Homo sapiens: one gene and its partners. The protein of the gene in region 1 purifies or fractionates together with the protein of each later gene. This does not show direct contact. Each region holds a gene or a part of one and is shown in the gene's direction. Other genes may lie near its edges. The genes, in order: PPP2R5B, NHSL1, KSR1, ERGIC2, CDCA2, MTCL3 and ARHGEF2.

Region 1 (4,591 bases):
GTGACACTGGGCAAGGCGCTTCTCCTCTCTAGGCCTTGGGGTCCTTGCCTGGCTGCAGAGGCTCTGTGGGCCTGCCCTCCCTCAGCTTGTTCAGGGATGCAGAAGAGCCTGGGAGGTGGGCAAGGAGGGAGATCATGGATTCCCATTGGACAGACAGGGACACCAAGGGCCGGATGGGCAAGGCCTGCCGGAGGTTCCTGAGCAAGCAGAGCACTTGCTGGGTCTCCAGTGCCGGAGTCCTGGACCCCAGCCTGGTGAACTGCGGCCCTCGGTGCAGGCCTCTGCCTTCTGTTGCTTTGGTAGGCGGACACCTCTTGCGCACCCAGGCTTCCTCTGCAACCGGGAGGATGGCTGGGTGGTTCCGCTGGAGCACTGAGTGGTCACCAAGACCCAAAGCAAGATGGGGCAGACTCTGAAAAGGCCCCTAGTCCCCTCCCCGACCTCATTATCTGGTCTCATCACCCTTTCCTACTGCTCACCATGGACCAGCTGCTCATCCAGGCAACATTTCAGGGTGGAGATTTCACAGCAGTGTAGCGGGATGGAGTTCAGGGCTATAAAGAGTGTTGGGGTCCAGGATCCTAGGACGGGGGCCCAGGACTGCAGGCTGGGAACTTTTGGTTAGCATGCCAAACTCCTGGACTCCCACCTGTGCCTTGCATGCCAGCAGCAGGATTTTGAGCAAGAGACACTGACCCACCCAGCACATCTTAGGGTCCAGGGGGGCTGAAAGGTCCATCCGGGAAGGCCAGGCTGCCTGGGATGAGGTGGCAGCTCAAGGAGAAAACCTCCTCCTCTCGGGCTTTGCCACTCCAAGACTGGCCCTTTAAACTGGAGACCATGATGTCACCATAGACAGCAAGGGACGGGAGGGGGACTGCAGGCCTGAGGATGGACTGCATCTCCCAGCAGGCTTGGGTGCACCACACCCCTCCCAGCAAGCACTGACTCATCGCAGACTTTTAACTAGTCCAGTGCTGGTTTCCAAGGGGTTTCTGAAGTGTCTGGTGGTTCTGGGGTAAGGGTGAGGTTCCTGGGGGGATGGCCTAGGGCATAGAAGGCCCAGGCCAAATCTGTGGGCCTAGCGTAGCTTGCTGCGACTCCTTCCTGTCAGTGTCCTGGCATCACCCTACTTTCCTGGTGCAAACTCCTAAGCCCTCCTCTTTCCCTATGCAGCCTCCCTTCTAGAATCCAGGCTTCCCGCCCCCGGCTAGAGCCCATCCCACTCTGCTCTCTGGCTTCAAAAGCTTCGGCCTTCACCCCCGAGTCTGCCCTCAGGGGTGTCCCCTTTGGTCTGGCAGCTCACTTTAAACGGCGCGGGGACTACATCTCCCAGCGGCCCCGGGCCTTCCTGACGCAGCCCCCCCTTTCAGCCCGCGGGGAGGTGCGGGCCGGGTGGGGGGAGGTGACTTGATGTCATCCTGAGCAGCTGGGCGGCGGGTGCCGGTGCGCACGGAGCCGAGCCGGGGCTCCCGTTGCGCTGCACCGCGTTGGGTCGGAGTCCCAGGACTTCAGCGGAGATCCGCGCGCTGCGACGGCCGGTGCAGAGCCCGCCGAGCGCCCAGTCCCGGCCCGGGGCTGAGTTGGGGGCATGCTCTAGCCGCCCCCCCGGAGCCCGGGAGAGAACCCAGGAGCGCCGCCGCCCAGCCCCAGCGCCCCGAGCGGAACCGCTGCGAAGGGGCCCTGAACGGCCGTCGCCCTCCCTACGGGCAGCCCCCGGGGGTTGGCGACCGAAGTCTAGGTTTTCGAGAAGTGAGTGTCCCCCACCCCATGAGGTTTGGGGGGCCAGGAAGGAGGAGCTGAGGTGGGGGAGGGTGCCAGGTTCTAGGAGCGGGGTGGCATCGGGACAGCACCTCCAGTCTTGGGGTTGTCCCAAGTGGCCGGGATTAGTGGAGCAGCGATGCGTTCCATTCTGAAAGGGGCAGGGATGACGATCGGGGCTCCATTCTGAGTCGGGGCTGGCTTGGGGGATAGGCCCTATTCTGGGAGGGGTTGTTTTGGAGGCTTTCTGTCTGAGAGAAGGGAGGGACATGTCCAGGATGGGAGGGGGCTGCACCCCTATTTTAGGGTCTGGGCAAGGATAGGAGGGAAAAGACCTGGGCACTCCACGCAGCCTCCCGGCTCTCCTGAGGAACTGATGGGCTTTCTCTGTCTCTTTCTTGCTGATCTTTCTGCCTGACTTCGTTTTCAAAAGAGCCAGGGTGGGAACCCTAACTGGACTCTTCGGGACCCCCAGGAAGGATCTGAGGCCTGAGCCATCCTCCTTTCTACCCTGTCTGCCCCCCAGGACTGGGCAGTTGCAGGAGGCCCTGGGGGGGGGCCCAGGACTGTGGTTGTGCCCCCCCCCCAAAGGCCGGACAGGATGGGACCAAGTTAGTCTGTCCAGTCTCACCCAGCACCTCCCAGGCCCAGAGAGAACCCCCGGGGCTCTGAAAGCTTGCCCTGCCGCCTGACCGCCATGGAGACGAAGCTGCCCCCTGCAAGCACCCCCACTAGCCCCTCCTCCCCCGGGCTGTCGCCTGTGCCCCCACCCGACAAGGTGGACGGCTTCTCCCGCCGTTCCCTCCGCAGAGCCCGGCCCCGCCGCTCCCACAGCTCCTCTCAGTTCCGCTATCAGAGCAACCAGCAAGAGCTCACACCGCTGCCCCTGCTCAAAGGTGAGCTGGCTGCTGGCCACTGGGGGAACCGAACCCCCGAGGGGACCAGCAGGGCCATGGGGAGGGGTGGGAGGCAGCGGGCAGCTGCCAAGAGAGAGAGTTTGGATACCCCTCCAGGCTAGGTTCTCCGCCATCAGAACTGACCCCAGCCCTCCAGCCCTCTCTGCTGACACATGGCCTGACTGGCCTGTCATCCTTAGAGGTGGGACATCCGAAGGTGGTGCCACCCTAGGGGCAGACCAAGGCCAAGGGTGGGGCCCATAGCCTGGGTTCCAGGGGGCCACTATCAGCCCAGCCAGCTGCCAGATCCCTGGAGCAGGCGCTTGGCAGGGTTCCCTGGGATCACCACATAGGTCCCTTCCCCAGCCTTGGGCCATAGGGCCAGACTGGCCAAGCCTGAGGACACCGTAGAGATCCTTGGCCCTGAACCCCTCCCCATTTCTGGCCCTTAGAACAGGGTGCCACCTGAGAGGGAGGCAGCAGCTGTTTGGGGCACCTGTGGAAAGCTGCTGCATCCAGGATTTGTGATCTTGCTTTAAAACTCAGGCCATCATACTCTCTGAGCCTGGATTAGGAGGAAGAAAAGCAACCCTCAACCCCCAGGAATGGAGGAAGGGACAGTAGTTGTTTGCTGTCTGCAAGGAGCAGGAGATGGCACAAGAGCATGGGGCCTGGGGGCAGCAGAGGCAGCCGTGGAGATTAGGAGGGTCTGCCCCACCCACAGCTGGGGCAGCTGGGGGAGCTGGGGCCCAGGCCCAGGATGCCCTCTCCTCCCCAGATGTGCCGGCTTCCGAGCTGCACGAGCTGCTGAGCCGGAAGCTGGCCCAGTGTGGGGTGATGTTTGACTTCTTGGACTGTGTGGCCGACCTCAAGGGGAAGGAGGTGAAGCGGGCAGCCCTCAACGAGCTGGTGGAGTGTGTGGGGAGCACCCGGGGTGTCCTCATCGAGCCCGTCTACCCAGACATCATCCGCATGGTGAGCACCTGCCACCCAGGCTCCGAGGGCCGGCCGAGAGGGCGTGTGAGCCCCGTTTCCTGTCCGCAGGACCCCTGCGTGGAGAATAACCCTGTACTCATCGGCTTGGCCTCAGTCCACGTCTTCCTTCCCCCCGACCTGCTGCTGCCCAACACCCACTGAATGCCTCCGGGCCTGCCCCACGTCCACACCTTTGCTTATGCTTGCCTGAGACCTGGAGTGCCCTGCCCCACACCCCATACCATCCATGGCCTGGCTCAGGTGCCGCCTCTGCCAAGAAGCCGCTGTCAATAACCAAGCTGGAAATCTCCCTTTTCCTGCCCGTAGACCTCACAGCTTCTAGCCTTGTTCTCCCCACTGGATTGCACCTGCCTAGAAGGCAGGGATGTGTCCCATTCACCCCTGGGTTCCCAGCCCCTGGCCCAGGGCTTGCACGAACTAGGCGTTCAGGTGATGATTGCCCAAGGAATGAACTGCTTGCTGGGGCAGATGCTGAAATCAACCCATTAGAACTTTGAATGAGGGCCGGGAGCAGCAGCTCTCATCTGTAATCCCAGCACTTTGGGCCAAGGCGAGAGGATCACTTGAGGCAAGGGGTTCAAGACCAGCCTGACAGTGAGACCGCATCACTACAAAAATTTAAAAATTTGCCGGGCATAGTGGTGTGCTACTGTAGTCCAGCTACTCAGAAGGCTGAGGTGGGAGGATCGCTTGAGCCTGCCTGGGAGGTTGAGGTTGCAGTGAGTCGAGATTGTACCACTGCGCTCCAGCTTGGGCAACAGAGCGAGACCCTGTCTTGGGAAAGAAAAAAAAAAAAAAAGCTTTGAATGAGAGACTCCCTGGCTTCTGTCTTCAAGGGCTTTTCCTTAATGAACCCCAACTCTGCCACTCAGATCTCAGTGAATATCTTCCGGACTCTGCCGCCCAGTGAGAACCCTGAATTTGACCCTGAAGAGGAT
Region 2 (4,132 bases), on another chromosome or scaffold:
AGGACGGAGCAGGTGAGTCTGGCTTCCTGGCTTCTCTCTCCTGTGCCCTCTGCCCATATGCAGCTGAACCAGATAGGGTTGTTGAATGCTCACACGTGGAAAGAACCCAGGTAGATCAGATTCCTGTTAAAGCTAGCAGTATGTAGGCTTCCTGTGTTAAAACACAGATTAAGTTACCAACTTTGCATTTTGTTATTATTTTTAAAATCTAGACCTAAAGGCATGGCAGAAAATAGGGGGATGGAGATGATCTGCAGCAGGCTGGGTATTAAATAGCAATGGGTAACACCTCCCTTCCGAAGAGCCGCGCAAAGAAACGTTGCAACAAAATTTAAGAGAGATGCCATGGGCGTTCCATACTTTAACAAAGAATGAGCTCTGGCTCTCAGGCTAGTGTCATTTCCTCCCTTCTTTGTAAACTATCAAACTACAGACCCACGGCATCTCCCTGTGGTTCTCACATTGTCGGGAATGGCAGGGAAGCAGCATATTTAGAAGCTTGGCTGAGGACTGAAATTCCAGTCACTTGTGCGTCTTGTATGCCTGCCTGCTCTTCTGTAGCTGGGGTGCCGGAGACCAACGCAGCCGGTTCATCCTCAGAGGCCTGTGACTTCCTCAAGGAAGACGGGAATGATGAGGTAATGACCCCCAGTCGACCCAGGACCACAGAAGACCTTTTTGCAGCTATTCACAGGTATTTCAAACTCCTTCCTCTGACTTTAATCTACTGTGTAATTCCTTCTTTCCAAGCAGCACCTCAATTTACTTTTCTTCCTTGAGGTTTCTTCTGTCACCCAATCATAACTCCTTAACTTTACTGTTGATTTTTTAGTGGGTTTCTACAGTTTTATTTCCTCTGGCTCCAATTTCTGTTTTACTTTGTCTCACTGATTTTTATGACATTGGGGACAGTGGCTCAATGTGATACGTTCTGGTAGGCGCTGCTCTTCCTGGCAAGGAGCGCAGTGTGGCAGTCATAAGACAGAGTATATTAGCAAGAGTCGGATTAAAGTGACTGACAGTGCAGTCAGGAGGAGGAATGCTATGTTCTGTGGACTTAGGATGCACAGACTAGCTCCATGGGACTCTCTTCCTAAAGATGTTTTAGTTTATTCTAATTTTTTTCATTTTACAGAAAAACCACAGTTATACAGAGCAATTTCTTTGGCTGCTTAAGTGTTTCTATAAAAGAGTACGGCCCTTTAAGCGGGAGCAAAAGAATGACTTATGCTTGTTAATATACCACTAGTGCCATCTACTGGCATCAGAAATCGTTGGGTTTAAAAACAAACAAAAAGGGTAAAATTTTCAAAGTAATGGCCTGAACTGTTACACTTTTTATATGTGGTCACCTTTAAGAGTAAATATGATTTAGCACTGAAGTTTTACTTACTGCATCACTTTTCTGATTGGAAACAGCTGACTACTCCCACACAGTGTCATCGTAAAAGCTGATGACTGTATATGTGCAACTACGTTAAGCCGTAATGCTGTATAAACCTTTTGCTTCCTTCTAGACTTCTCTACCACGGTATTTCCAGGTAACTCTAATGAATGTCCTTATGCTGCCAAGGCCTTATTTTGCCCTGAATGAAGATCCTTTCTTTTTTTTTAACCTCCTGAAACAAAGCATCCTGTAGAATCATTTGATTCTGTGTGTGAATGATCTTATGTCAGCACTGCTTTCCCAATTCTTGGACTCTCCCTGAAAAGACTATTGCATAAGATGAAAAACATAGTGCTGTACCTACCTGAAACTCTTCATGCAACACATTAACATCTAACTTGGTGTGGGGGGAACGAAGCCGGTGAATTAATGTTCTTGTCAAGAATTACGCTCTTTACGTCGCTCCTCTAGTGTTGGTATAATAGATCCTAAAGACTGCCCCTTTTAACATGGACTGGTTTCTTCAGTCTCATTAGAAGTGAAAAGGTAGCTGGTTGTCCAATTATTTCTCAAAACAGAGAAATGATAAATGATGCATCCTTTGAAACTTCAGTGGCAATTCTAGAAGTTCCCATAGATGTTTCTAACTCTTAACCACGCTAGACACATAAGAAGCACTCAATAAATATTTCCTGAATTAAATGAAACCAACTGGTATTTAACCATTAGAAGATTCTTCCAAGACTCAGAGTATTTCATTTAGTATGGAATGCACTGGGTTGCTAAATATACAGGCATATCTGTCTATTTATAATAGCCATCCACAGAGAAGATTTGCGTAGCCTGGTTGTTCTGTGTACTCGATACTTGGTTCCAGTGAGGAAACCCAACTGTTGTGGGTCCAAATTACTGCATATTTTTTCCCAAAAATATGCCAAAGGCCTCTTCTATATTTTGGCAACCTTCTTAAGGCATCGAAAAATGTGTTGTTTCTCTTACTAGGACGTTACATCGACTGCAGATGTAGAAATCGGTCAGTTGGTGTTACTCAGTGCACGTATGAGAGAAGTCAAAGCCAAATAGGCCTTAGGAATGGATTGCAGAGAGAGAGTGAGGACATATGCTAATTTCTGTTGTAGCGTTGAGAATAAATTAGCAGACATAGTAAAAATCCATCTACTGTCTGTGCTTTTTTAGGGCTTTATTTTTATGTCCTTCAGCGCTTAAGCTCATAATTTAAAATAAAGAATATCTAAGTTGAAACACAGCTTCCAAATTTTATAATGCAAATTAATTCGCTTCAGATTTAAAGCCAGATGGAAAATGTAGAACACCAGTTGAGGTGTGAAGTTTTTATATTTATTGAAGTAATTAGTTTTAAAATCAGTGTTAACTGTTTAAGCACTTTTTATAGCTCTCTTCATTAAAAATACATATTCGTGTGTGTGTGTTGTGTATGTATATGCAAAGAATTTGTACATTTAGATTTAATTATTTTAGTGGGCACCTGCTCTTGAGAGATGACAGTGCTTTCATAAAATCCCATCTTTCTTCCTTTTTTTTTTTTTCTTTTTGATACAGAGTCTCACTCACTCTGTCACCCAGGCTGGAGTGCAGTGGCGCGATCTTGGATCACTGCAACCTCTGCCTCCCAGATTCGAATGATTCTCCTGCCTCAGCATCCCAAGTAGCTGGGATTATAGGCGTGTGCCACCATGCCCGGCTAATTTTCGTATTTGTAGTACAGACATGGTTTCACCATGTTGCTCAGGCTGGTCACCCCATCTTCTTTCTTAATTCTATGTCTACAATTAAAGGTCATAGTTTTACTCAAGTTTAGTTGTGACTTGTTTAATGGATCTCAGCATACTCTCACCGTTTAAAATCTAAATTACAAATTAAGTCACCAGCCAATACCTAAAAGAATGAAATGAGCAGAGCTGCTTTGGGGAGTAGACCATGTAAGTGGTGAGGCCATGTGCTATAAGCTCAAGTCCTAGTTGTCATACTAACAAGTTACCTTTTCTCAGTTACCTTTTCTGAAACCCAAAGTGGTTGGACTAGACCATTTCTAACGTCTTTTCTAGCTCTACAGTTTCGAGATGTTAGGATGTCTGTAGTTTTGTCAGCCGGTCCTAACTCTTATCAGGGCAGACTGCTCTTGTTAACTACTGAGTGGGACCATGAAACCTGTATGGTAGGCCATGTTCTGCAGTCCCAAAGAGTCTGGTGCCCTGTCCACTCTGGCCACCCTTCAGACCCTGTATTGGGTCCTTACCATTTCCCAGCCTCTGCTTTAGTGGCATCTTTTTGACCAGAAGAATGGAGATGACGCCAGGAACACCAAGCCCAGGGCAGCCAGCATGGGCCCATGCTGCCCTCTGTCTTGCTGTGTAAGCCACGTAAAAACTAAATCCATTTTCTATGTGACATTCAAAGGTTTGTTAAGCACCTGCTCTATGCCTGACCAATTATGGCTATCACTGCATTCATGAGTACTGACAAACTGTGACCTATATACTGTTATTCCCCTTTTGGTGATAGGAAAAATACACAGTCAGAAATGTTAACTTGTCCAAGGTGACAGAACAAGGAAGCTTTAGCAGTGGGAGTTATGTAGCTAGCTTCTTTATTTCACTTAATCTTCACAAACCTGTGAGGTTGGTATCTTATAAGTGAGGAGGCATGGCATGCATGGGTAATTTGTCCCAGGTCACACAGCGAGAGGTGGGAAGAGTCTGGTTT
Region 3 (4,132 bases), on another chromosome or scaffold:
AAAATATTTACAAAATACATAATGATATATGTTCACTATAAAAAAGAAAGTACTAGATGTACAACAGTGAAAATCACCCATAATGCCACCTCTCAGAGTTAATTCCAGTGCACATTTTGTTGTATATTCTTCCTGCATTTGCATATAAATGTACATGTGTATATTTGTGGCACATACCATGTGCATTGCCTTGTAAATGTCTTCTGTCTGTATCAGCACATATACATATGCATCAGCACTATTAGTGGCTGCATTGTGTGGTCATACCACAAATTCATCTAACCGGTTTCCCTGTGTGGGCCATTCAGGCTGTTTCCAAGTCTTGCTTTTATAAATGGTGCTGCAACGAGTATCTTCCTACAAGTGAGATTTGCTGGGTCAAAGTATATGAATACATTTAATATCTGTCCTCGTCTTTAATATCTTTATGGCATCATAACTCCCCCTCTCCTAAGCAGGAATGGCAGCCTTCATACATTTATCCATTTGCCACTGCATCTGTAATCACACTGACGGCCAAGAGTTTAAAAGGAGGCTGGGCCTGGGTGCGGTGGCTCATGCCTGTAATCCCAGCACCTTGAGAGGCTGAGGCTGGTGGATAGCTTGAGTCTAGGAGTTCGAAACCAGCCTGGGCAACATGGTAAACCCCGTCTCTACAAGAAATAGAAAATTAGCCATGCATGGTGGCACGCTCCTGTAGTTCTAGCTACTCAGGAGGCTGAGGTGGAGGTTGCAGTGACCTGAGATTGCATCATTGCACTCCAGCCTGGATGACAGAGAAAAAAAAAAAAAAAAAGAGGCTGGACATGGTCCTCTGGCTGAGATTCTGGGATAAGTGTCAGGAACTATGGCTTCTAGTTTTGTGGTTGCTTGTGTCTGAGGTTCTGGGCTATGTGTCAGGCATTGTGGCTTCTAGTTTTTGTGGTTACCTGCAGCAAAGGGGGGCCCCCTGGGCTGACCAATTAGAAGAAGGCCTTTTCCTTGCTCCAAGATAGCGGAGGGAGGGGCTGGATTTCAGGTCTCCCTGTCCAGAGACTGATCAGCTTTGGTAGTACATAATCATATGGTGAGGTCTTGATCACTTGAGGCTCATGAAAGTCACTTTAACTGCATTCTTGGTTGCATCCCTAACTACAAATACTGATCACAGTGCTATTTGGGGTGCCTGGCTTTGGGGATGATTTAGTAGAGTTGTGGGTTCCTAGGGCTACAAAGGGTCTTGGAATTTCCATGTGGTCCAGCCCTCTCATCTTGCAGGTGAGGAAACTGAAGGCCTGAGGGAGAACTGACTTGCCAGGAACCCCTGTTAAGCAGAATTAACAAAGGGTGGTTATTAAAGGAGCACTGAGTTGGGAGTCAGACCTGGAGGCCCACACCCTTGATTAAGACATTATACCACCTTGAGTCTGGCCTGTTGACTGAGGGTGAGCCACTCCATCCTCCTCTGATTGTGGGGTGTTGACCTCAAGGGGTTTCCTGCAGGAAGAAGCAAATGGGTTTGCTTTCCTAGCTCTGTCCCAGTGCCTTAGGGGCCCTGAGGACTGGAGAGATTCTTGGAGCGCCATCTGGGGTATGTCACGGGTGGACCTTTTTTGAAGGTCAGTCTGCTCAGTGGGCTGGCTCAGCCCGAATGAACTGTCTTGAATCTTTGGAGTTGTCTGTTTACTTTTAAGGGCTTCTCATCCTTGCACCAAAAGATCCCCTGGAAATTAGGTGGGAAATCCTTAACTTTTATGGGGCCTTGTGTTTGTCTTAAAAGTTCATGCGCATGGCCAGGTGTGGTGGCTCACACCTGTAATCCTATCCTGGATCCCTTGAGTCAAGGAGTTTGAGACCAATGTGAACAACATAGTGAGACCCTGTCTCTACAAAAAATAAAATATTAGCCAGGGGTGGTTGTGCACACCTGTTGTCCCAGCTACTACAGTGGCTGAGGCTGGAGGAGCACTTGAGCCTGCACTGAGCTGTGATCTCACCAGTGTACTCCAGCCTGGGCCACAGAGCAAGAACTTGACTCAAAAAAAAAAAAAACCAGCAAGAAAAATCCTTGCAGATTTTGCATTCTGTGCCACTATCCATTGGTTTTCATGTCAAGATAATGTAAAAATTCTTTACAATTGCTTCCAGAAGGAGTAGCCTTTTAATCTAGTGCACAGGTGTCCAGTCTTTTGGCTTCTCAGGGCCACATTGGAAGAAGAATGCTCCTGGGCCACAGATAAAATACACTAATGCTAACAATAGCTGATGAGCTTAAAAAAAAAAAAAAAGGTTTGTGCATAATTTTCATGATACCCACCACCACAGATAGGCGGAAAAGTCCTTGTAGTCAAAGGGTTGGACACGGCTGATCTAGTGTCTTGTCCGTTTTGGCTTTCTCCCTGATTCCAGAATGCAGGTAGAGATGTAGAGACGTGCTCTCAGGACAGCTGTTGAGATAAAAAAATTTGTTGTCATTTATTCCCAGGCACAGCTGTTTGTCATTTGCATTGAAAAAGTCTCCATTCAAACTGCTGTCACATATAAAATCTATTTATGTAAGTCTGTATTTTTCTGTTGTCTTGGCCTTGGTGGGCAGTAGTGTGTTTTAACTGAGCAAACTGTCTTTCCAAATAATGAAGCTGAAGTCAGCCTACCTGCTTGCCATTTTTCTTCCCCTTCCATTTTTCTAATCTCCGGATAATTGTAAGAATGAATTAAGATTTGTGTTTAAGGCCGGGCACAGTGTCTTAGGCCTATAATCCCAGCACTTTGGGAGGCAGAGACGGACGTATCGCTTGAGCTCAGGAGTTCCAGACCAGCCTGGGCGACATACTGAGACTCTGTCTTGTATAATTAAATTAAAATTTAAAAAAAGAAGAGATAAAGACCCGTGTTTAAAATTTTTAAAAAAGGGGGGAAAGTGTAATGCAAAATGTGGACTATGCCAGCTATGATTGGGAAAAATAATTTTTCATACAGCATTATCTATAGATTTGTATTAGCAGCATACTGGTCATAAGCGTTTTGCTTTCCGCAAATATGATGTGGTAAGCTACTTTAAAGTGTGGTGGGGCTTTCTTCCGCATGGCTCCTTGAGGGGTTGAGTCCCAATTTATCCAATTAATTTGGGTTTAGTTTTGATATGGATAAGGGAGACCAGCTTCATTCATGGTGCACACACAGTTTTGCCAATAAGGAAAAAAAAAAGCCACCTGAATGTTCCTACTCATTAGGAGCTATCTGGAGAGCTCCTACCCCACTCCCACCAAGGCCTGGGCCCTTAAAAAGGCTCAGTGCAGCCTTTCTGTATCTCACTGTATTCTGCAAGATGCTCCTGTGAAGAAAGTTGTGCTGCATCAGCCATCTCCCTCCTGAAGATCCCTGCGGATGAGGATTTGTGTTTTAAAGGTTCTGAGAAGTACTGCAACAACAGTTCTCAAACTTATTTGTCCAGGGGATCTTTTCTTCCACTGAACGTAGTTGGGGAGACATGGCCTTAAGCCTTGAGCAGAGAAAGAGACAAGAAACTGTTGGCTCACTTACAACCAAGTGTTGTGTTTAAGTTTTAGGTTTTTATGAAACTGAGGTGCTGTTTGAGTTTCCAAATAAAATTGGGTGGTTGAAGAGAGGCTGGTATCCCTGTAGACTTATCCAGCCATGAGAAATTGCCTTTTTTACAAAGGGAAATAGGGTGTCTCCTGGGCATCACATTAGCACTTAAATACATGTATCACTGAATCCTTCTAACAAGAAGAGGAAACTTGCCGAGAGAGGTGTGCCCGCCTGCCTGCCTGCCTGCCTGGAGTTTGCACTTCCTGCCTCCTCCTGGCCCTGGGTGCATTTAGTTGGTGTTAAGGGCATGGTCTGCTCAGTGTCTACCAGGAACCTCATGATCCCCCTGATGGGCAGAAAACAATCCAAGAGAAATGCAGATGGCTGTGGGTGCATTTGAGCTTGGGCTGCAGGGGGTTTGGGGGAGAGGGCTGGGCTACAGATGAAGAATGCTTTTCAAAATAAAAAAGGAAATGCTGGCTCTGAATGGAAAGGAAAGGAAGCAGCTTCCTGTTTCTCGTGGTGGCTTTTTGAAAGGAGGAGCTCTTTCTGGCCTCTTGGCCAACGGAGGCCTGGGCCGGCTGGGGCCACTCTAGGTGCG
Region 4 (3,792 bases), on another chromosome or scaffold:
GAGCTTAGTCTAGTAGGACAGTTCATAAGGAAATGTGGATGTCCTTCTTTTACAGTAGGGCTTCAGGGCTTAATATTGAATGTATGTAAGTAACCAGATGACATGAATTCTGTTTCTCTCTTCCTCCTATTTCTCCCCTTCCTTTTGCCTCCCTTTTAGGAACGTATCATTAACCATGCTGCAGGCAGCCATGGAGTCTCTGGGATATTTATGAAATATGATCTCAGTTCTCTTATGGTGACAGTTACTGAGGAGCACATGCCATTCTGGCAGTTTTTTGTAAGACTCTGTGGTATTGTTGGAGGAATCTTTTCAACAACAGGTTAACAACCATTTCCTTTTTGTCTAATTTCTGAAAGTGTTGCTTATACTTAAGTTGCTTCTTCTCAAAGGGGCAAGAAGTATACAGATTTTCATGTTTCGGTGTTTAAATAGCTTTTGCTTTAATTACAAAACTCCAAAATTATATTGACTAACCAGTAAACATAACTAATTTCATTGTATTCAATGATGTAAGGTAGATTATATAATGGTGAGTTGGAAAGATCCTGGGTGTTAACATCAGATTGAAGTAGAATTGAATGTAAGTTCTGTCATTTACTTGGTGGTAGCTTGGAATAGATCACCTACCTTTTCTGAGGTTTTCTAATCAGTAAAAATAGCAATAATAATACCTAATTTGCAAGTGTGCTATAGGATTAAATATGAAAATGCCTAGAAGGCATTTAAGACATTTTTAACTGTACAGTATGTAAAATCATATGTTATAGTACTTTGAATTATGCAATACATGAAACTAGATTTGTAATCAGTAACATGTTTATGATTTTTGTCCTGAGATCCTGGAATTCGCTAAGATTATTTGTCGAATTGTAATGATGAAAATTGGGAGTTAAGTACAATAGAGAAAAAGGAAACAATTCTATTTTCATCTTCAGTCCTTATTCAGTATTAGATGGAGCTGGGTAGTTTATTATACTTAGAATCATATTTTTAAATGAATGAATAGCTTTTCTTTCGAAATTCTTTGTTAGTGCTTCATTTCAATCTATTTAAATTTGTGTTGTTGACATCATTTATTTTCCAAAATTGTATTGGTGTGGGAAAACCTTGAAAAGATTGTGTTTAGGCCCGGTGCAGTGGCTCATGCCTATAATCCCAACACTTTGGGAGGCCAAGGCTGGCGGATCAACTTGAGGCCAGAAGTTCCAGATCAGCCTGGCCAACATGGCTAAACCCCGTCTCTACTGAAAATATAAAAAATTAGCCGGGCATGGTGGTACATGCCTGTAATCCCAGCTAATTGGGAGGCTGAAGCACAAGAATTGCTTGAGCTGGGAGGTGGAGGTTGCAGTGAGCCAAGATTGCACCACTGCACTCCAGCCTGGGCAACAGAGTGAGACGTCTCAAAAAAAAAAAGATTGTGCTGAGATCGTGAATTATGTGGCCTTGTGACTTTGAAAAGAAATCCATTTGTTTTAAAATCTTTCTTGATTATTTTTAACCATGGAAGTGAATAATGCAAACTGCTTTGTTTTCTTCCGTAATCTATTCCATTATAGTTATTTATTCTTAAATAACAGTTTAGGAAATAATTAAAAGCATAAACTTATTGTTTATTACAGGCATGTTACATGGAATTGGAAAATTTATAGTTGAAATAATTTGCTGTCGTTTCAGACTTGGATCCTATAAACCTGTCAATTCTGTAAGTGGTGTAGTATACATGGTGCTGATCTCTAAATCTTAGAATCATTGTTAAGTCTATGAGCCAGTCATGGTGGCTCACACCTGTAATCCCAAGACTTTGGGAGGCTAAGGCGGGAGGATCGCTTGAGCCCAGGAGTTTGAGACCAGTCAAGGCAACATAGTGAGAGCCCCATTTCTACAAAAGATAGAAAAAATTAGCTAGGCAAGGTGGTGCAAGCCTGTAGTCCCAGCTACTTGGGAGGGCACAGTGGGAGGATCACTTGAGCCCAGGAAGTTGAGGTTGTAGTGAGCTATGATCGTACGTACCACTGCACTCCAGCCTGGGTGACAGAGCAGACCCTGCCTCAAAAAAGATAGAGATAGAGAGATAGAGAAATAGGGGGAGAGAGAGAGAGAAATAGTAGCTTTTGGTTACTAGAAAGGATTGCCCAAAATAAAACCTTGTGTTTAGAGGAAAGAGTATAAGGAATAAAACTAATTCTTTGGTCTTTTTTTCCCTCCTTTTCTCCTTAGGTTCCTTTTGAGGATGGCCACACAGACAACCACTTACCTCTTTTAGAAAATAATACACATTAACACCTCCCGATTGAAGGAGAAAAACTTTTTGCCTGAGACATAAAACCTTTTTTTAATAATAAAATATTGTGCAATATATTCAAAGAAAAGAAAACACAAATAAGCAGAAAACATACTTATTTTAAAAAAGAAAAAAAAGGATAAAAAAACCCAAACTGAAATTCTATATACGTTGTGTCTGTTACAAATGTCGTAGAAGAAATCATGCAGCTAAACGATGAAGAAGCCCAACTGGAGTGTTGCTTTGAAGATGACGCCTTCTTATATTTTCATAGCAAATGGGTGGTATCAAAATCAGACATTGCTTCTTGCTGATAAAAAGCCTGAAGGAAATAAGTGAAACTACATCTATGGGAAAAAAAAAAACATTGAGAAGTGCAAATGTTCGCATCCTTTTGTTTTTAAAAGATATGATGTCAGAATAAAATGTGGAAAACATACGGAAAACTAGTCTAGACTTTAAAGAATTGTGATCAGGTCACATTGTTAATAAAAAAAAAAAACGGGCTAGTCCCTATGTTATAGCCATATTAATGTTAAGCCATATTGACAAGACCAGTTATCCAATAATTTGGTCTTAAAAAGTAACTACTTTTCTTTGAACTCTGGTTATTGACTTATCTAACTGTTGAAGATAGAGTCTTAGAAGACTAAGGTAAATTCTCACAGGGGCAGATATGTAGGTGTTATGTAACTAGGGTGTCATTCACAAATGGTATAGTAGAATCTTATACACGGAAAAGAAAGCACATTTTTTTAAAAAAGATGCCAAGTTTTTTAATCTAATCATTATATTATTGGTGTATTTTGGGCAACATAGGGTGAGTTATAAAAAGATCCGCTACTGATAGTGAAAATTACCGGTTTGTAAAACATTAAGAGAAAAAATAGGATATTTTATACATGTGGTGAGTGGAGAACAGGGTAACTTTAAATGAAAGTGTAAGGCAAATTGTAAGCACCACAAGATATATCAGATTTGAGAGGTGCCATGTTAAACATTGTCCATTAAACTATAAAACTGTATTATGAAGTATTTGCATTCAGGGTGTCCTGAATATGATTGATTCTGTATTAGATTGTGTTCTAACTTTCTTACTATTTAAGGATTGGTTCTAAATCTTCACATTATAAAAGATTAAAAACAGTGAGAGGGAGCTATCACACAGGTACTATTAAAAGCTGTATTTGGAATATGTGTACCAATATCAGTTTTCCTTTTGTAGTACTGAATGGCAGTAGAAGAATCAGCAGCCAATCCTCAAAGTTTAAATCATTTAAGGAAATGGGGAAACAAAATTCCAGGTAAATAACAAGACTGAAAAACTAGATTTAAAATAGTGGTTTTAGAAAACAGGATATCACAAGTAACAGTTTTTCAAATGGATTTTTTTAAAGATAAATTTATGAAAACAGGATAAACAATATAATGGAGAGAAGGAGAAATAGTGATGGGTCTGTTTTGCAGTAAAGTTTATGCAGAATGACGTTTTGCAGAAAATAACA
Region 5 (4,811 bases), on another chromosome or scaffold:
GGCACTACTGTTTTCTAAAAATAATACATATAAATTGAGCTTGATTACCTTGAAAGTTATTTTATTATCAAGTCAGTTGATATATGGGGTAGATAAAAAATGGACTGGAATTGTTTCTGGTTTCTAATGCCCAAATTTTAAATGGACTGAATCTTGCTGAAAATAATAATGATTTTTTTTTTTTTTTTTAATTTTTAGTAGAGATGGGTGTCCCTGAGTTGCCCAGGCTGGTCTCAAACTCTTGGGCTCAAACAATCTTCCTGCCTCAGCCTCCCAAACTACTGATATTACAGGCAAGAGCCACGCTGTCTTGCCTGAAAATGATAATGTGTGTCCATTTGGTGTGTTGATTTGTATAGAATCATTTTTCAAATGGCTACCTTTGTCAATCATCAGATATTTATAGCCTACCTCCTATTTGCGGTATACCATACAAGATTAATAATAGACTTGAGGATGAATGAGGTACATGCCACCATTGACTCCTGGCTTCTGCGTCCTGCTTAACATTAGGATAGCACAGGAGTTTAAATAAACAGCCACCCCTCTGTCGCATACGCCCTGGCTCACACTCTTCTCCTGCCATGCTTTCTCACAGGCTGTGTTGTGACAGGGCATCCACCACTCTACCTTTAATCTGACCTAATGTTGCTTATCTTCCAAGATTTTGCTGTATTGTCTGTTTTTCCAGGAATACTCTGCAACATACTTCCATCACCTAGTTTTATGATGATCTATTTTCTATGTTCCCCTGCTCCCTAAAACTTCAGTCTCCTTGAGAGTGGAAACTAAGTCTTATTTTCATTACATCTCTAGTTCTTAACAGTTTTTCAAAAGATGATTAAACAGTGACTGTAGTAAAATTTTCCATGTTGTATCGTATTAGAGAATTTATTTTTTAAAATACCTAAAGCATTTTTTGTCTGTAACCAGTGGTATCACCTGCTACATGGGTTTAAAGCAATTCAGCTCCTTGCTTCCTTTATCTTCTCTATCTCTTTCTCTTTTTCCTTTCCTCTCTCCCTATATCTTCTTTACCTTCCTTCTCTAGTATGTTGGATTTTATGCGAAATACATATCTTTTTGTTTGTTTGTTTGTTTTTTGAGATGGAGTCTCACTCTGTCGCCCAGCCTGGAGTGCAGTGGCTCAATCTTGGCTCACTGCAACCTCCACCTCCTGGGTACCAGCAATTCTCCTGCTTCAGCCTCCCAGGTAGCTGGGACTACAAGCACGCGCCACCATGCCTGGCTAATTTTGTATTTTTAGTAGAGACGGGGTTTCACCATGTTGGCCAGGCTGGTCTCAAACTCCTGACCTCAGGTAATCCACCTGCCTCGGCCTCCCAAAGTGCTGGGATTACAGGCGTGAGCCACTGTGCTCGGCCATAAATATCAATTTTTAAAGCTGTCTAAAGAGCCCAACTAACATTGGTTGGCACTGAGTGGGCACTGACCTGTTTAATCTCTAGCTTTAAGTGACATGATTTTAAGTACCTTAATCATGGATATATTTTTAAATGGAAACATTGTTTTTTTAGACTTTTGGCTCAACTTATGTTTTATACTTTTTTTAGTTTTTATTTTATTTAAAACACTTTATTCATTTGACTGGCCACTTAAAAATATCATCTGAGGTATCAAAAAAGATTGCATCTAATAGTTAGTTCTAAGATTTAGAACTCATAAAGCCTGAACTCATGTGGGCTGTGTTACTTACCAATCTGATGATGGTTTTTCCACCTCTGATGTGCCAGAAATACATGAAAGCCTACCCACACGTGTCTTCCTGGAGGATATTTAGTCAAAGGCTGAGGAATTAAGGGTCGATTTTTATAATATTGAAACAAACCTGGTTCTGTTTCGGAGTACAGTGCACTTTATAGTAATTTTTAACAAAGGGCATGAGACCTGAGTGTCTTCAGGCATGCTGTTTTAGCTCATAAGTCCTCAAATACCCCAGAATTCCAAATTTTCCCTCCCCTGTTTCGGAGGATACATTGGTAGAAAGTTTCAGAAGCATAATGTTGCCCATTTGCAGTCATTCATTTTCAGGGAAATGGGAAATGTCACTGCCTCATACTCATGGACCTTGTAGCACGGGAAGGGTGTTAGAATGGAGGAAGCTGTTTCAGATGCTGTTCTCATTTTCATGGTTTGAGGTTATATGCTTTATTAATTCATGCGTTGAATACCTATTTTCTTAACCTGTGGATCGTTGGAGAACTAAAAGAGGAGGAGGAGGATGACAGAAGGGCAAGCACAGTGTAACATTTGTGGGTCTTGTGAATGCTTAAAACACAAAAACAAAACAGGTCACCTGATTATTTAATAAATGTAAAGTTCATTCCCATTGTTACTTTTTAATTAGATTTAAACCTATTTACATGCCCATAGGTTATTTCAGTTCAAATGGCAAACTGGAAGAAGTGAAGACTCCTAAAAATCCAGTGAAAAGAAAGGATCTTTTGCGTCATGACCCAGATTTGCATATGCATCAAGGCTATGATAAATATGATGTCTCTGAATTCTGCTCTTATATAAAAAGTTCCTCATCGCTTGGCAATGCTACTTCTGATGAAGATCCAAATACAAATATAATGAACATTAATGAAAATAAAAATATTCCAAAAGCAAAAAATAAGTCAGAAAGTGAAAATGAACCAAAAGCTGGAACTGACAGTCCTGTTTCTTGTGCTTCTGTAACTGAAGAACGTGTGGCATCAGATAGTCCCAAACCTGCTCTGACCCTGCAGCAGGGTCAAGAATTTTCTGCTGGTGGTCAAAATGCAGAAAACCTTTGTCAGTTCTTTAAAATTTCACCAGATTTAAACATAAAGTGTGAAAGAAAGGATGACTTCTTAGGAGCTGCAGAAGGAAAACTGCAATGCAATCGTTTAATGCCTAATTCACAAAAAGACTGTCATTGTTTAGGAGATGTCTTAATTGAAAATACGAAAGAATCTAAAAGCCAGAGTGAGGATTTGGGAAGAAAACCCATGGAAAGTAGCAGTGTTGTGAGTTGCAGAGACAGGAAAGATAGAAGACGTTCCATGTGTTATTCTGATGGTCGAAGTTTACATTTGGAAAAAAATGGAAATCACACACCATCCTCCAGTGTGGGCAGCTCTGTAGAAATTAGTTTAGAAAATTCTGAACTGTTTAAAGATTTGTCTGATGCCATTGAGCAAACCTTTCAGAGGAGAAATAGTGAAACCAAAGTGCGACGTAGCACGAGGCTACAGAAGGATTTAGAAAACGAAGGTCTTGTATGGATTTCACTTCCACTTCCTTCCACTTCCCAAAAAGCCAAAAGAAGAACAATATGTACATTTGACAGCAGTGGATTTGAAAGTATGTCTCCCATAAAAGAAACTGTGTCCTCCAGACAAAAACCGCAGATGGCACCTCCCGTCTCAGATCCAGAAAACAGCCAGGGCCCTGCTGCTGGTTCTTCCGATGAACCTGGTAAGAGGAGGAAGAGCTTTTGTATATCTACACTTGCAAATACTAAAGCCACTTCCCAGTTCAAAGGCTACCGGAGAAGATCCTCTCTTAATGGGAAGGGAGAGAGCTCTCTGACTGCCTTGGAAAGGATTGAACATAATGGAGAAAGAAAGCAGTAATTGACATTTCCTGCAGAGTCTGTGGCAAGAGGGAAAGTAACCATCTATGCTGAAATGATCTGTCTAGTTCCCATTCTCTGTTCAACCTCAGTGTTTCAAAAGTTCCTAATAAATAAACTCATTTGAGTTGAACCTACTTTTATGTAGAAATAAATAAGTTTCTTCATCATTCAGATAGAAAACATTCTATTAAATATATTCTTCTTCCGCCAGAGAGTAAATGCTTTATTACTACTTTGCTAAAAAGGTTATTTTTAGGCACAAGAAGACATCTCTCAATTTTTAGACTTTTTTTTAGCATATATATTTTTAAGTACATATTTACCACTGAAGTCTTAGACTCTGTTGTTAGAAGCATCTTTTAGAATTGGCTGATTTTATCTGGATAAGAGGTTTGTTTTTTTGTTTGTTTGTTTTTCTTTTTTTTCCCCACAAAAGATAAATTGATAGAATTAATGGAACTTTATGAAAATTGAAGGAAATATAAACTTGAAGACTTAAAGCGGGTAAGATATGTATTTTTCTTTAGAAAAAAAAAACCTGGCTATAAATTTTAACTAACAAAAGTTGAAATTATAAAACTTGTTTTCCTTTTGGTTAAATTTAAGAGAAGACTTGATGACTTGTTTTATCTGTCTCAAATGAGATTTTTATTTTAATAGTTTAAATCCTAAACAAGAAATTTCAGAAAATTATTTCAGTAACCACAATCTTATAAATTCATCATTATAAATGAATATATAATTTAGAAATAACTCTGATGTGAAACTATTCATTCCTTTAAACAAGATTCCTTTATATTTTGTTGTGTGTTGGGGGGAGGAATTTTTTATTTTTTATTTTTTATTTTTGGTGAAAATATAGCTCAGTTAAAGACTGGGCTCTCAGATTATTCTAATTAGTCACAGGCAGTTTGGGACTTAATTCATGGTTTTCCATTAAAAGTTTTGAAAACCAAAAACTCACTGATAAAATTAGTTTACTAACCTGAAGTGTGGCAGTAGGTCACTGATTTTTTAACACTGAGTTTTCCAGCGGTTCTTTTTTTTTTTTTTTTTTTTTAATAATATCTGGCACTTGACTTGGTTTCTCTAGCTTTTGCAACATCTCCTATGGCTGTTTTGGTGATAGCAGTTTGAAAAACTAAATTGCTATATATCTGGAATTTATGAATGCACATAAATCATT
Region 6 (4,682 bases), on another chromosome or scaffold:
CTTATGGGTAAACAAGCATGTTAAATGTTGCTTATACTTATTCTGTATTATTACAGTTTTCAACCTTGAAATTGCATAATACTAAATTATAAAATGAAACATTTAGACACATTGTTTGATTTAAGGATACATAATAATCCATTCTTAATATTTATTTTACTTTTTAAAGTTACTATTTGCACGAAATAAATGATACCGCTTTCGGAAAAAAAATCAAAACATAGATGCCTGAGCAGAGTAAAAATTCTTAGAGAAGCAGGACTATGCATATTCTGTGTCTTTAGACTGTGTTTACAGTATCAATATTTTATTGGTAAAGATTGAGCTGAAAAATATTTGTATCTACTTTATCCATTTTGATTGGATGAGACATGTGCATCTTGATATTTCTTGAGGATATTACAGCTCAAGTTTGGGTACATAATAAGAAATTGCCTAATATAAATTCAAACCAACTTGTGATTACATTTTCACTTGCTTTTTTTTTTTTCCTTTATTTTTGGTATGCTAGTCGAGGTGTGGGCTTTTTATTATAAATGTCACAGATGTCACTTTTCCTGTTCCCAAAGGTATTTGAAAGAAAATAAGGAAATTATCTCAGTTTTCACCAGTATGCTTGAGTGTCCCCAGCACAGGGACAATTTCTTGATTCAGCTTTGCATCCCAGTACCTTGGACAGTGCCAGGCTCAAAATTGGCTTTTAATACCTATTTTGGAACATGAATGATTTTATCGTGATATCATATTTGTTTTATGTGTCTCTAAAGATAAGAATAACCAGAGCTTGAGCATGTTTTTATTTTGCTGTAATAATTGCTTTTATGCAAACTACTCCTAAATTGTTTTTATTTCACTTTTAATGCAAGATCAACACTTGGAAAATTGAATCTCTTGAGCCAAAATTCATGTTGGCACAAAAAGCTATTATTATTTCAAGATATCTTCTTCCTTTTACTTACAAAATCACCATATAAATGTAAGACAAATTAAATTTTAAAATGCCCTTTCAAAAGCAGTACTTACTTTTATTCTCATACTCAAGCTCACAAAGGAATTCTTAGAGGTAGAAGGGAGGCTCCCATGCCCCCCGCCCACCACTGAAAGAAGAAACTGAAAAGAAAAAGAGAAAATTCCACTTAATTTTTAAAAATATTATTACTGTGAAACAGTATGGGTTAGTGTAAATTGTAAAGACATGTATATTCTGAACTCCTCTTTTTAAATGAATTCCCTTTTAGGCTGATATAATGTATTCTTCCTGGTTTCTGTTATTGTTCGCATGCACTACTATAAAGATTATGGATCCCAGCAATTACTCATTTTCACGGTAGAAACCGGCACTCAGTAGAAAACAGGAAAACGTACTGAAGGCAAACCGTTCTGTAAAGGATCTCTGTGGGCCGATATTTATTTCGGTTTGCACTAAATTAGTCGTGGCTTCGCAAGAACCCTTTGTCTGTGGGACGGTGGGTCCCATCATGGCAACCATTATCTATTCGTGGAAACGACATCTGATGACTCCGCCCGGGCTGGGGGTGGGGAGGGAGCACCGCGTGTAGAGCTCGACTGAGAATTAAAGTGAGTGAACAAAGAGAACTCCCAGCAGCCGCCAGCCAGCTGCATCAGGAGATGTTAGTCACGCCCGGAAGGCTGTTCTAGTCCGCCTCCTTGGAAAAGAAGCTCAAGTAAATAATTGATGGAGAATGACCGAACCCAGGACAAAGCTTTGCAGGAAACCAGTGCATCCGTGTTCGAGCGGTTTTGGGATCCTCTGCCAAGTACGGGATAAGAGAATAGAGCAAGGAGTTTGAGCGCTGCTGCCAATCTTCCATCTCGGGCGTGGCTCTGGCCTTTTTGTCTCTTTATCCCGCCACTCCCCACCCCCGTCCCCCGTCCCCCTCCCCGCCTTCTTCTCTTTCCTCTTGAAAGTAACCTCTCTTTGGTTACTTCTACCCTATCGTCCCTTGCAATCCCGCCTTCTCTCCTGCCCAGTTCGGTGAGGTCAGCTCATGAACATCTCTGCACTTCCTGGGGAGCGTCTGGCCCAGCTTGGTACCTCGCGTGTTAGCCTGCTGAGAGCTGCAGCTCCAGCCCAGCCGCGGACCGCCGGGAAGTCACCCGCTCTGGGGGCAGCTGAATCTTGACGTTACCGCCATTGTTTGGAGAAATCGAGTGGGTGTGGAACTGCGGCGAGCGAGCCCAAAGTCATGCTCAGCCGGAAAGTCGCATACAATAATATGAAGTTGAACTTTCCTCGGCGCAGAAAGGCACAATAATAAACCCTGAGATCCCCGGAATATCAGAAGGAAAGTGCTGTTGATTTGTTCAGCTACTTGGAAACCTCGCCTCTGCTGAGAAGTGAGCAAGTTCTGGATTTCTAAAGGGTTGGGGATGAATGATGGGGTGGGTTAGCAGGCGGATAAAACTTGAGATTAAAAGTGTTGGTCTAAGCCGTGCAGGGGTTGGTTGGGTGATAATTTTCACCGGGAAAGCCTTGAAGAGATGCAGCATCTTGTCACTTTGTGGGAACCACGTGACAGCAGCCGGATACCTTTGATTGTGGAGCCCAGTTACTGGAACACAAGCTTTCGCCTGGGTTAATGCTGTCTGAGGGCTGAGTTTAAACATTGGCTTCTCAGCTCTGGAATTATTCTGCCTGATTAAAAACAAAAATAAGTTTGCATTGGCAATATAAGTTAGTTAGATAGCCCATGTTAGTGCCACCCATGATGATAAACTAGGCCAGACATTCTAGTAGTATCGCGACTGGGAGAGAAGATGTAGAAAACAAGTTGGTGGGCAATTTTCCCCCGATGTCTTCTTTGTTCACCTTTATATTTCAAAGTGAGTTGGAAGGAGATGCCAGAAACAGAAAGGGAGGTGGATTAGGAACCCTTCGGTAATATTTCTTTATAAAATGAGGAATTACTGCATGCTAAGTTGTGATGCTAACAATAGATGTTAACAAGAATAATGCAAGTAAAATAACTGGCAGTAAAGTAATCTGCTCTCTGTATAGAACAAATATTTTTAAAGGAGAAATTTATGCCTAGTCATGCCCCTTTCAGTGCTTTAGACAGAAATAATTTTAAGGAAAAGGCAACTAATTGACTAGCTGCCTGGATCCCTAGGGAGAGGAACCCATGAGGCAGTAACTTGCTATTTTTCAGATTAAAGAAGCTAGTGACGGATTTATCTTGGAAATACACATACTGGAAATTGATCTTACCACCATGAGGGAAGATGCACCAGCCTTCTGGGTTCTGTCTCAGAATTGCTATATAGGAGGAAATGGGCACTTTAAAAAGTACAACTTTTGCCTATGATATGCGATGTAAGAAGATGGCTAAGAATGAAAATATTTTCTATCTAGCAATTACACTTAAAACTAAAGTGATTCATAAGACTACAAAACTGGGTAAGCATAGGAAAATTCATCACCAGAAACTTAGGAAACTGCAGAACTGACCACAACTTTTCCAAATGTATTTTAAAAATTATTTCCCAAAAGGGAAAAAATACGTTTTTGGGTTGCTAATAACTAACCCATATAGACAATTCTTAATGCTATTATTTTCTTGAAACTGAGATTGATTTAAAGGCATTCATTATTTATATTTTCTTTTAGTTCTATTATAAAGGAAGTTGGGTGCATTTTCCCAAAAACAACATTAAGGGTTGGAGCTGCCTGGGGAAAGTGTCATTTATCCGTAGAAAATATTCTCTAGGAACCCTACATCATAACCCTTTTCCTCTAATTGAACTTGGGAATACTAATTAAATGAAAACTTTCTCCAGTAAACTAGGCTTTACATATGGATTTGATGGTAAGGAAAGCCAAAGTTGTAAAAGCAGAGTTGACAACTCTAATATATGGATATCTTTTCTTTCTGAAGCTTCTTTTCCACTTTATCCTCTTTTCTTTTATATCTCCCTTTCCATCAATTCCTGTCTGACTCTGTATCTCACCCTTTCCAAAGCCTGCTACCATGAGAATGTAAGGTTCAGCTGCTTTCAGATCCGTCATTTTGCTGAGGTGGAGTGAGATGGAGACAGCGCCACCCTGGGCAAAATGAGAATTGACAGCCCTCCATCCTATTCCTAAAGACAGCCCTGCATCCTATTCCTAAAGTCAAAGCTTCTATTAAGCGCCATCCAAATGGAGCAATATCACCCTTTGCTCTGCAAAAATTCAGACATGTTGTCTTCTTCTCTCCTTTTGTTTCTGTCCCAGCTTAGGAAGGAAGGTTGGCGGCGGTGAAGAGGGAAGAGGATGATCTAGTAATGGGCTCTTCCAAATCGCATCTGGTAGGTTCATAGCCATGAGTCAGCCACCAATCGGGGGCGCTGCCCCTGCCACAGCAGCAGCTTCTCCCGCCGCTGCAGCCACTGAGGCTCGTCTGCACCCGGAGGGCAGCAGCAGAAAGCAGCAGCGAGCTCAGTCACCCGCTAGACCGAGGGACAGTTCGCTGCGACAGACAATCGCGGCCACCCGGTCCCCAGTGGGGGCCGGCACTAAACTCAATTCTGTTCGGCAGCAGCAGCTGCAGCAGCAGCAACAGCAGGGTAACAAGACCGGGAGCCGCACGGGGCCGCCCGCCAGCATCCGAGGAGGCGGAGGTGGGGCCGAGAAGGCGACGCCCCTGGCGCCCAAAGGGGCCGCTCCGGGAGCTGTCCAGCCT
Region 7 (4,132 bases), on another chromosome or scaffold:
GGCTGTCTGTGGAGCATTGATGCCAGAGAGAGGAAGGGCCACTAGAGACCCTGTTCTCTGGCTGCCCCAGTCTTCTCCCTCCCTTTGCCACTCCATCTGAGCTGGTCAGACAGATGAGTGTTTGTGGATGCCACAGGGGGAGGGTGGAGGGCAAAGGACAGAGGTCAGGTGTGGAAGAGAGTACTCGTAGCAGCACTGGGGCAGAGCTGCAGCACTGCCCATTCTGGAGTGACCCTGGTCCAGCCATGTTGTTTTTTTTAATACTATTTTCAGCTTGCTTGCTTTTACTTATGTGTGTATATATATATATGTATATATTTTTTTTTTTTATAGAGATGGGTCTCGCTGTGTTGCTCAGGTTGTTCTCAAACTCCTGGCCTCAAGCGATCCTCCCACCTCAGCCCCGCAAAGTGCTGGGATTACAGGTGTGAGCCACCTCACCGGCCTCTTGCTTTTAATTCAAATGTAATACATGCTCAAACTTTTGGTTTGAGTTATATAGAAGGCTGGGAGGGCAGGAGAGGAGGAGAAAAGGGAGAGTATATGGCAGTGGGAAGAGATTTTTGGACTTGGTGTTTGAGGTCCTGTGAGGTTATTATTCAAAGGTGAATTTGAACTTCTTTTTTTTTTTTTGAGACATAGTCTCACTCTGTGGCCCAGGCTGGAGTGCAGTGGCCCAATCTCAACCCACCACAACCTCCAACCTCCCCGGTTCAAGCAATTCTCCTGCCTCAGCCTCCCAAGTAGCTGGGATTACAGGTGCCTGCCACTACGCCCAGCTAATTTTTTGTATTTTTAGTAGAGATGGGGTTTCACCATGTTGGTCAGGCTGGTCTCGAACTCCTGACCTCAGGTAATCCACCCGCCTCGACCTCCCAAAGTGCTGGGATTGCAGGTGTGAGCCACTGCACCCAGCCTGAATTTGAACTTCTAAAGAGGTATAATTTGGTGCAAGATAGGTGGAGGTTAGACCAAAGGGAGCATTTTCTAGTGGTCCGGGTAGGTAGGTGCCAGAATAGAAAAAAGGAGGCCAGAACATTTTAGAGGTTTGAGTTAGAGGCTAGAGGCAGCTCAGCTTCCTGAATAAGCCTAGGTAGAGGAGCAGTTGGCCTGCGTGAGGAGGAGGGGAGGAGAGGCTGTGGGCGGGAGAGGAGAACAGTGGCGGAGAAGCAAGGCTGAGAAAGGGAAGGCAGAGCGGGAGGAGCCTAGGAGGGAGACCCTGAGAAGAGAAGGGAGGACATAGAGAGAGCAGGAGACAGGAGGAGGATGCGAAAAATGGATGATTGGGGATGGGGAGGATGCATGAGGGGAGAAGGGATTGACCCCAAGACCTCTGGGCTCTGGACATCATCAGGCAAACCTGGAGCTTGGGAAGAGAGGCAGGAAAGAGAAGGATCTTGGGCCCAGGCACTGCAGCCCCATGCCCTCTGTCCCTGCACTGTTGACTCAGCCCCTCCACACTTCCCCTTTCTTTCTACCATTTTCTGCCCCAAGCACCAGGCCCGTGCATCTCTTCCCCTCCTCCACCTCTCAGCTGCTGGCGTGGCCTCGTGGCCTCGGCTGAGTCAGTACTGGTCTCCTAGAGTCCGGGCTGAGTGCTTCCCGCTGAACTGTAATCCTCTGTCCCCAGTCCAGGTCCTCTGACTTGGGGCTTCTACCCTCAGCCATCTGGATCCTGATTTTTGATTTCTGAGAGCCTGGGAAACCTTGGAGGGAGTGGTCTTCTCAGCTTCTAGTCCTGCTCCAAGAGCGGAGGGAAAATCCAGAGATCAGAGTCACAACTAAGGAAGGTCCTAGAATAGTGGGAAGAGTGATATCCCCCTCTTCTCACCTTCTCAGGCTTTTTGGGAATCACAGGGGCTTGAAGAGGGACAGATTGGAGGTCAGGGAGAATGACTTGACTTGCAGAGGCAGGGGCACTGGGGGAAATGGGAGACAGCAGAGATGGAAAATGCGGCTCAGAGGCTCCGAGGAAGGTGTGCGCCATCTGCGGAGATCAACACTGAAGGATGGAGGGTAGATGTCAGAAAGGACTTCCTAGGATGGGAGAGACCAGTTGGGTAAGGAGCAATAGAGGAAACTCTCCTAGGTTTTAACTCTGGAAAGTAGTATGAGAGGGATAAAAGTTAGACTGCAGGAGAGATTTTCCGCTGGAAGCAACCAAGATGGCTGGCTGAGCTTCCTTACTTAAAGATCCCAGAGTGGAAGAGTGACCCAAAGGCAGCTAGCTGCCTTTGCCTCAAGGTTAGTAGGGGACATGCTGCCTCCCAGACAGGCCCTGTGTGCCGTGGCTGAGGGTTGGTGAAAAGAGTTAGAGGTCTGGGATCCTGACCCCTGGGTTGGGGGTGGCAGGGGAGGCATTCTGCCCCCTTCAGCCAATCTAATAAGGGGATCTCCTGCCCCCCCCACTGTGACTGCCACAGAGACAGCAGATCCAACACTGGTTGTCATGGTTATAAGAGGAGCTAACTCCCATAGATTGGAAAGCGCTGGTGAGCTGGCACCCTCCGCTTCGCCTGCTCTCCCCTCCTCTCTGCGCATCTTCCCCCTAGCACAGAGAAGAGAGTACAGCAGCTCGGGGGTGAGCAGAGCTAGGGCTGGGAAGGTGGAGTGAGGACGCAGAGACCTAGAGCCAGGGAGATGAGTGGCAACAGGAGGCAGCCCAGCCGTAGGGGCCAGGTAGGTCAGGGACCCAGAACCCATCCGGGCTGGCTGCCCCAGAGCCTGGCCTGGTCACTCCCGGACAGCTGCCTCTGACACCCAGTTGCAGGCTCTGCTTTAGGAACTGGTGTCTTTCCAGCATCCTCAGGCTGGCATTTTTTCCTTGCCTCTGCCCCCAGCCTGTCTCTCTGGACTCCAGGCACCCTGGCATTTTCCAGCCTCACTTCCTCTCCCTCTCATCCCTTCCACAGACCCGGGAAAAGGAGAAGATGAAGGAAGCCAAGGATGCCCGCTATACCAATGGGCACCTCTTCACCACCATTTCAGTTTCAGGCATGACCATGTGCTATGCCTGTAACAAGAGCATCACAGCCAAGGAAGCCCTCATCTGCCCAAGTAAGTTGTTTGGACCCTGAGAGTCACCCAGACTCGGTGCCCACTGACCCTGATCTTTTCATCTGTTTTTTCTGCCTGGATCCATGAGGGTCACTCTTCTCTCTGATCCCCAGCTGGGCCCAAATGCCAGGGCCAGTTGCTTGATCCCTTGCTCCCTGTCCTCACTCTGAGGGGTGGTGGCTGTTGGAATATGGCATAAGCCGGACTATCTGGGAATGTGGGGGAGGGGAGGCTGTGCTGGCTCCTCTTGCAGCTGTCATCCACCAGGCACCCCCCTTGCTCCCCGAACAGCTGCTAAGGGTTAGGGGAACTGATTGGAGAAGGAGCAGGAATGTTGTATGTGTGGAGGGGGTGGGGTGGGGGGTGACAGAGGAACTGGGTGGAAAGCTGCCAGCCTTGCAGCTGGCTCTGCCTGTCTTCCTGCGCAGAGCTGGGCATTCAGGACTTCACAGTCCCCTTGCCCCTTTCTTTCTATTGACTATGGGTGGAGCCTGAAATCTCTGCTGTTTCAAGCAGAAGATGTGATTAGGACCCTTCATCTCAAATTTCTAGTGAGAAAGAGGGAATGTAGCAGGGATGTGTGTGTTGAGGGGCAGGGGTTAGAATTCCTGCCCTTCATCCACATCTGAGTGTAGTCCTGTCTTTAGGGAGTATAAGCCAGGAATTCTTTCCTTCCCCAGTACACAGAGGGCTCCTGCTGCCCCCTCTCCCTCAATTCCTCCTGAAGTTATGGCAGAGATGCCTCTGATTAGAGCAGGATTGAAGGTATTGTGACCTGCTACTGAATAGCGGACAAAAGCTCTAGCCTGTAAATCCCTATGAAACTTGGGGAAGGAACCCCCAGAAAGGACCAGTGATGGGCAACCCGCTCGGGTCCCCTTCTACGCTGTGGGAGCTTTGTCATTTTGCTCTTCACAATAAAGCTTGCTACCGCTCAAAAAAAAAAAAAAAAAGAAAGAAAAGAAAACCAGTGAAGCCTCCCTACTTTCCTCACTGTTCAATTTAGAGTTGTGAGGATGAGGAGGGAACCCCAATCTAGATCCCTATAGAGACCTGACAAAATTCCCAATCCGGA

What was found.
Region 2: the proteins of PPP2R5B (region 1) and NHSL1 purify together in Homo sapiens (affinity purification with mass spectrometry; one large-scale study listed by BioGRID and IntAct). This does not show direct contact.
Region 3: the proteins of PPP2R5B (region 1) and KSR1 purify together in Homo sapiens (co-immunoprecipitation; one study listed by IntAct). This does not show direct contact.
Region 4: the proteins of PPP2R5B (region 1) and ERGIC2 purify together in Homo sapiens (affinity purification with mass spectrometry; one large-scale study listed by BioGRID and IntAct). This does not show direct contact.
Region 5: the proteins of PPP2R5B (region 1) and CDCA2 purify together in Homo sapiens (affinity purification with mass spectrometry; one large-scale study listed by BioGRID and IntAct). This does not show direct contact.
Region 6: the proteins of PPP2R5B (region 1) and MTCL3 purify together in Homo sapiens (affinity purification with mass spectrometry; one large-scale study listed by BioGRID and IntAct). This does not show direct contact.
Region 7: the proteins of PPP2R5B (region 1) and ARHGEF2 purify together in Homo sapiens (co-immunoprecipitation; 2 studies listed by BioGRID and IntAct, with this or other methods). This does not show direct contact.

The regions. Positions count from the first base shown.
Region 1 is NC_000011.10:64,923,277-64,927,867, forward strand, and holds the start of PPP2R5B (serine/threonine-protein phosphatase 2A 56 kDa regulatory subunit beta isoform), read left to right. Parts: upstream 1-1,412; 5' UTR 1,413-1,752; exon of another isoform or gene 1,753-2,194; 5' UTR 2,195-2,458; coding exon 2,459-2,657; intron 2,658-3,435; coding exon 3,436-3,632; intron 3,633-4,525; coding exon 4,526-4,591. UniProt on the Homo sapiens protein: As the regulatory component of the serine/threonine-protein phosphatase 2A (PP2A) holoenzyme, modulates substrate specificity, subcellular localization, and responsiveness to phosphorylation.
Region 2 is NC_000006.12:138,426,273-138,430,404, reverse strand, and holds part of NHSL1 (NHS-like protein 1), read left to right. Parts: coding exon 1-12; intron 13-561; coding exon 562-694; intron 695-4,132.
Region 3 is NC_000017.11:27,462,689-27,466,820, forward strand, and holds part of KSR1 (kinase suppressor of Ras 1), read left to right. Parts: intron 1-4,132.
Region 4 is NC_000012.12:29,339,650-29,343,441, reverse strand, and holds part of ERGIC2 (endoplasmic reticulum-Golgi intermediate compartment protein 2), read left to right. Parts: intron 1-159; coding exon 160-322; intron 323-1,625; coding exon 1,626-1,708; intron 1,709-2,223; coding exon 2,224-2,286; 3' UTR 2,287-3,792. UniProt on the Homo sapiens protein: Possible role in transport between endoplasmic reticulum and Golgi.
Region 5 is NC_000008.11:25,504,116-25,508,926, forward strand, and holds the end of CDCA2 (cell division cycle-associated protein 2), read left to right. Parts: intron 1-2,394; coding exon 2,395-3,623; 3' UTR 3,624-3,796; downstream 3,797-4,811. UniProt on the Homo sapiens protein: Regulator of chromosome structure during mitosis required for condensin-depleted chromosomes to retain their compact architecture through anaphase.
Region 6 is NC_000006.12:127,516,255-127,520,936, reverse strand, and holds the start of MTCL3 (microtubule cross-linking factor 3 precursor), read left to right. Parts: upstream 1-1,601; 5' UTR 1,602-2,358; intron 2,359-4,234; 5' UTR 4,235-4,322; coding exon 4,323-4,682.
Region 7 is NC_000001.11:155,968,081-155,972,212, reverse strand, and holds part of ARHGEF2 (rho guanine nucleotide exchange factor 2), read left to right. Parts: intron 1-2,912; coding exon 2,913-3,057; intron 3,058-4,132. UniProt on the Homo sapiens protein: Activates Rho-GTPases by promoting the exchange of GDP for GTP.